Homo sapiens: one gene and its partner. The protein of the gene in region 1 purifies or fractionates together with the protein of each later gene. This does not show direct contact. Each region holds a gene or a part of one and is shown on either strand. Other genes may lie near its edges. The genes, in order: RAB23 and NUP35.

Region 1 (2,743 bases):
GCCCCCAAAACCTATGTCACTATCAGCAATGGGAGTGGTGACAACTGGTGACATAAAAATAAGCATTTTACATTACTGTGAAATAGATAATGCCAGATCATTTCAATATAATGAAAAGCAAAAATTTACTTTTTAATTTTTTTTATTTTTCCATCTAAAATGGCAAAGAGAACATTTACTTTTGATCACTTAACAAGGACACACCCAGGAAATTTGATTTTCTCAACATTAGGAGGATGAGGGGAGTACAGATGGAAAAACAAAAGATAAAACACAAAAGGAGTACATAAAACATTGTTTAGTACAAATAATGAAAAATGACTTCATGACATTTTCCAATAAAAGTTATTTTTACAGATTTTGCAATGCTGTAAAAACCAGGTATATTGAAAGGGGTTATTTATAGGTTAAAAATAAAGCCATTGATGAGTGATAATCAGTTTTAACAGAGTTCACGCAATTATCTTAGCTGGAAAGCTACTGTCCCAAGTGACAAAATTTATGTCCTGACACATGATTACATATTAAATCATTTTGTAAAAGAAATGATTCTGTATGTGGGACTGACAGCTCTTGAGAAAGTGCTATACAAACAAGGTTATAGAAATGTTGAAGTGATTGATAATCTTAAAATACCATACAAAAATGTGTAAACAAAAGGATGGTTTAGAGTTGCAGGGCATTATAAAATATGTAATTTTAGTTAAGACTAATAATAATATTTTTGTGCACTTTAAAAATGGTTAGTGTAATCTTGTAAGTTCAAAGCTGGGTTCTCAGTGAGCAGCAAAAGGTGTTAGATGCATCACCACACTTCACAGGACCTCCTGAATGACTGCAGATGTGCTGTGTACCTTCTTAAGGGGCTTTGGCTGACCTTATGAGAGCAGGAGCTCACCATGCTTATGGGTGACTATATCAAAAAGATCTGCAATAAGGCTCACCTGGGAGATGCTCTAGCATTCAAATTCCTATACTCCTCTTTTATCTACGCTGTCAGATGAAAACTGCTTACTGCTTTTAAAAGATATAATAAACAATATAAATTCTGATAGTAAAGCACTATAAAAATTAGGTATGATATTTTTGGCACAAAGCACTTTTTAAACCCAAGCTCATTTTGCAAAATATATGTCTAGAGTTTATCATTTGAAAATAAAAACATATACACAATATGTAAATGGTTTTATAAGTGAATTAATTAGAATGTACATTTTCTTAAATACTGCACATACCTTCAGCTTACTCCAGTACCAGACATCTGCATGCACACCCCACATTCTACATTACACAGATATTGCACAAGTTTCAATGCCAAAATACTAATGCAGTCTGGCAAGATTTAGGGTTTACCTTTCAGTATTATTTTGTGAAAGTATTCAGATTCAATACTATTTCGCAGAAAAGCTACATGACCAATTTCAGGAAAAGAATGCTTGCTATCTTTCCTTGATCCACAGTATTAAAATCTGTAACAATATATTTAGGCATTTCATTTATGTTTTCCAGCATTTAAAATTCCGCAAAACCTGTGTTTGAAATTTCTTATAGCATTCCTTTACAAACAGGAGAAGCTTCGTCTAATGTAAAAAAAATTAAAGGAGTCCACAGGGCAATAATTTTTCCACCAGAGGTCTCACTCTACATTCTGAAAAGCACTGCAGAGCAATATTTAAGTCTGTCACTTTCAGAGAGCCATTAGGAGCAAAGTCTGCTGAAAACCTTGTAACATACCATGACAGCTGGATGGGTTTCTTAATGCATTGCACAATGTAATTCAATTGTTTTCCTCCCAAAACATCTTAGGGTATGCTACAGCTGCTAAAAGGATTTCTGTTTTTCTTGGTCCTTTGTTTGTTGGGTCTAAGATTGATGACATCTCCACCATTGAGGGTACCTGAATTCTGACCGGAGTGACTTCCACCAGATGTATTAAAGACACCTGTATAAATTGAGGGAAAAGAGTGATTGCCACTGACACGCCTGAGTTACCTGTTGCATCCAGCTTGTTAGTAAAATCAGTAATATTTTCAAGTATTTACAGTTTCTCTAAAATTGTAGTAAAATCCAACAAAATTTAGCATCTTAACCATTTTTAGGCATACGGTTCAGTGGTATTAAATACATTTGTAATGTTGTGGAACAATCACCCCCGTCCATCTCCATAACTCTTTTCATCTTTAAAACTGAAACTCATACCCATTAAACAGTAACTAACTCCCCATTCCCCCTCCCTGCAGACCTTAGCAACCACCATTCTATCTTCTGTCTCTTATGATTTTAACTACTCTACCTTATATAAATGGAATAATAGTGTCTTTTTGGGACTGACTTATTTCATTTAGCATAATGTCTTCAAGGTTCATCCAACGTAGAACACTGAAGCATTTCCTTCCTTTTTAAGGGTGAATAATATTCCATTGTATGTATATACCACATTTTGCTTATCCTTTCATACATCAATGGACACAGATTTATGATTTTAAAGCTCTTGTTTTAGTTTTACTTTTAGTAGCTAATACGCATGGTACAAAGTTCCAAGGCTGTAAAAGAGGTCACATTAGGGCTCTTTTTTACCCAGATTTTCACCCCTTGCCAGTTTTCCCACCCCTAAGGTACGCATGTTATTACTTTTCCTACTTATCCTTCCAGATATAGTTTATGCATATATAAGCTAAAATGCATATATATTCTCTTTTCTACCTAAGTTGTGGCATATTCTACACAATGTTCTGCATCTTTT
Region 2 (3,835 bases), on another chromosome or scaffold:
CTTATCCACCTGCCCATAGCTCCAACCTACTTAATATACATGTAGAATGTGACTATGGTTTAAATCATTCTGATTGTTTAAGAAGTTTAATATTTAATATTTAAAAATTATGTGAAAGAACAAATGAAAATTTAGAGTTTCATCTAGATCTAGGGCACTCGTCAGCTGAGAAGTAGTATGGACTTGTCTTTATTTTCTTCTTTTTTTAGGGTCCCCAACAGGGTCCTGATCAGTTGCCCAGGCTAGAGTGCAGCGGCACAGTCATAACTCTGCAGCCTTGAACTCCTGGGTTCAACCAATCCTCCTGCCTCAACTGTCCTATTGGGATATAGGCACGTGCTGCTATGCCTGGCTAATTGTATTTTTTTTTGTAGAGATGAGGTCTTGCCGGATTCAGGTGATCCTTGCACCTTGACCTCTCAAAGCGCTAGATTATAAATGTGAGCCACTGTGCCTGGCCGACTTTTCTTTTAAGTAGAAAATTTAGTAGCTTCATAGACACAAGTGTTGTTTCCTATTATTATTGTGCTTAGTAGGACATATAAACAAAGTTTATCAGTTAAGTTGGTAAGTTCTTTATATAAAGATATGTCTGCTGTTTGCTTTAGATATATGTTTTATGCCTTTCCCTAAATTGTATTTAGTGAAGTTGAGAGTTCAAGAATATTAGAAAGCATTTTTCAGTGGATTCGTGCTATTTATAGGCTTGATATGTCTGGCATACTAGGCTTACTTGTCAAGTAAAGCAAAATTCATTCACTGTGGTAAACAGATTACTGTTTCTTCCCAACACTTCTAGACCTGCCTTCCTGTCCAACAGGAGCCACTAGCTAAGTGTGGCTATTGATACTAAAGATATAGCTAGTCTTTATTGAGATACACTTTAAGTATAAAATACACACCAGAGTTTGAAGACTTAGAAAGAATGTAAGGTATCTTATTTTTTTATGTTGATTACATATTGAAATGATAATGTTTTGGATGTGTTTGGCTAAATATTACTAAATTTCACCTGTTTGTACTTTTAAAATGTGCCTACTAGAAATGGTAAAATTACACGTATGGAATTTATTGTTCCTAATGGATAGATATCCTGGTCTGGGATGGTTTTCTAAAGGTTGATAAGTAAAGCTTATGATTAGTTTGGTATGAAGGCTGGGCGTGTTGGTGCATGCCTGTAATCCCAGCACTTTGGGAGGCCGAGGTGGGCGGATTGCTTGATTTTTATGTATTTTTATTTATTATTATTATTTTTTGAGACAGGGTCTTGCTCTATCACCCAGACTAGAGTGCAGTGAAATGGTCATGCCCCACTGTAGCCTCGACATCCTGGGCTCAAGTGATCCTCCCACCTCTTCTCCCTAGTAGCAGGGACTACAGATGTGGACCACCATGCCTGGCTAACTTTTGTATTTTTTGTAGAGATGGGATTTGTCCTGTTGCCCAGGGTGGTCTTGAACTCCTGAGCTCAAGTAATCCACCTTCCTTGGCCTTCAAAAGTGCTGGGATTACAGGTGTGACCCACTGTGCTGGGCTTTGGGCAGATTGCTTGAACCCATGAGTTTGAGATCAGCTTGGGCTACATGGCGAAACTCTTGTCTCTACTGAAAATACAAAAAAAAAAAGGCTAGATGTGGTGGTGTGTACCTATAGTCCCAGGTACTCAGAAGGCTGAGGTGGGACGATTGCTTGAGCCTGGGAAGCTCAGGCTACAGTGGGCTGTGATCGTGTTACTGCACTCAGCCTGGGTGACAGAGTGAGACCCTGTCTCAAAAATAAAATAATAAAAACTAAAAAATTAAAAAATTGTTTGTTGCAAGAACCACTGGCTTCTAAATTTGTGCAAGGTTTTATTACTTCTCTGATGATACAGACAAAGGCTTACAGATATTGCTGTATTCAAAATGTTTGAAAGACTCGTGGGTCATAATTTATAGAGAATGTTTTTGATTTGAAAGTTGGTAAGAATATTATTGCTAGATTAGAGCCCAAATTAGTTATGCCCCCTGGAATTTGCTCAGTTTGCTTTCTAATCATGAAAGAATTGGCATTAATAATTGAGGAATAAATTTTATATCTCTCCCAACATTCTCTCAGCATTTAGTTCTGGTTGCTAAATGAAGCTATTTGAGATTTCCTTAGTTTAATTAGAATCTGTTTTAAAAAATCTTTATTGAGTTCTAGAGAGATTCTGTTCTCATTTATTGATTGGATATTGTCTTTGTTTTAGAAGGATTTTAAACTATTTTAATCCTTAATTTTCTTATATTTAAAGGAACTAAAATGGATAATTTACCAGTTTTGGAACTTTCTACTGGTAGTGGTAGGGATATGCTGTCTTTTATTGTTTAGACTGATTTGAATCTATAGTGTTTCATGGTTTCTAAGTATCTGTTGAAAATCAAATTTTGTCACCCTTCTGTTTTTCTGTATGAACCTGGTCATTTTAAAAATTACCATTATCTCTGTTATTTCAAATATTGTACATTAGAAACTAAAAACAAATAGTTAACATGTCACCTTTTACAGAAGATAGTCTTTTTTTTTTTTTTTAACATAATATGACTTTTCTTATTTTAAACAAATACTAAGGGATCTAGTAAATTTTAGGTTAATACTGTTTAACTTATGGGGAAAAAAGAGTGCCTTTGTACTTTGAGCTAATTAGAGGCATCTCTAGCACATGATAAAAATTCAGTTATCCATTGAATGAAGCCTTTTAACACTTACTGTATTTATGTTTTGCATTTTTACCATAACACTTTCTTCTGTTTGTGTAGCCAAACATTTCAGTAATGCAGAGTCCTCTTGTTGGAGTTACATCTACTCCTGGAACAGGTAAGTGATTCTTTCTTTTTTTTTTTTTTTTTAAAAGACAGGGTCTGGCTCTGCTACCCACGCTGGAGTGCAGTGGTGTGATCACGGAGTAAACAACTCTGACACCAAATACTTCTCTATTCTTCGAATGAATTTAATATAAAATGTTTGTTGGTAACTGCCAAAATTTTTTATTTTATATTTCAAACTTGGAGATTTTCCAAAATCTATAACTTCTTTCAGGAAGGAAATACTTTGTATATTGATTATTTTCTGAATCAAATCACCCTAAAGGTATGGTGGGGTGAATATTCAGAATGTCTTTTTAAGAAATTGTATACTTAATAGATGTTTGAAGTATCTCCTTAGTTATTAAAACTTGTCAATAAAAAAGCCATTGGAATTGGGATGAAAAGGAATAGTTAAGACACTGAATAATAAAGGTGTTTTGAGAGATGTTAATGCATAGTTATAAATCTAAATGCCGTTGAATAGAAGCAACCACTGATTATATACCTAGTTTTTCTTTAAGATTAATGGCTTTTTAATAATCATCATTATGCTTAGCACAGTTCTTCATATGTCGTCATATGTGTATAATCCCATCAAATGTTTATTCAGCAAATATTTGAGCACCTAACTGTGTACTCTGGGAAATAGTAAACAAAATAGATATTCCCTGCCTTTATGGAACTTACATTTATTTGCAGAATTTACATTTATAAACAAAACAAGTAAATTATAACATTTGTTAGAAGGTATTACATTTTGTGGAGGAAAAAATTAAGCAGCAAAGGGGGGGAGGGGGTAGAGACTTAGAGTTTTAAATAGGGTAATGTATTAGTTTTCTGTTGCTGCCATAACAAACTACCACAAACATAAAAGTGGCTTAAACAATACACATTCATTATCTTTCATTTCTGGAGGTCGGAAGTTTGAAATGGGTCTTGGTGGGCTAAAATCTAGACATTGGTAGGGCTGTGTTCATTTATGGAGGTTCTAGACAAAAATCTATTTT

What was found.
Region 2: the proteins of RAB23 (region 1) and NUP35 purify together in Homo sapiens (affinity purification with mass spectrometry; one large-scale study listed by BioGRID and IntAct). This does not show direct contact.

The regions. Positions count from the first base shown.
Region 1 is NC_000006.12:57,188,659-57,191,401, forward strand, and holds part of RAB23 (ras-related protein Rab-23), read right to left. Parts: intron 1,943-2,743; coding exon 1,803-1,942; 3' UTR 1-1,802. UniProt on the Homo sapiens protein: The small GTPases Rab are key regulators of intracellular membrane trafficking, from the formation of transport vesicles to their fusion with membranes.
Region 2 is NC_000002.12:183,130,786-183,134,620, forward strand, and holds part of NUP35 (nucleoporin NUP35), read left to right. Parts: intron 1-209; exon of another isoform or gene 210-332; intron 333-2,780; coding exon 2,781-2,838; intron 2,839-3,835. UniProt on the Homo sapiens protein: Functions as a component of the nuclear pore complex (NPC).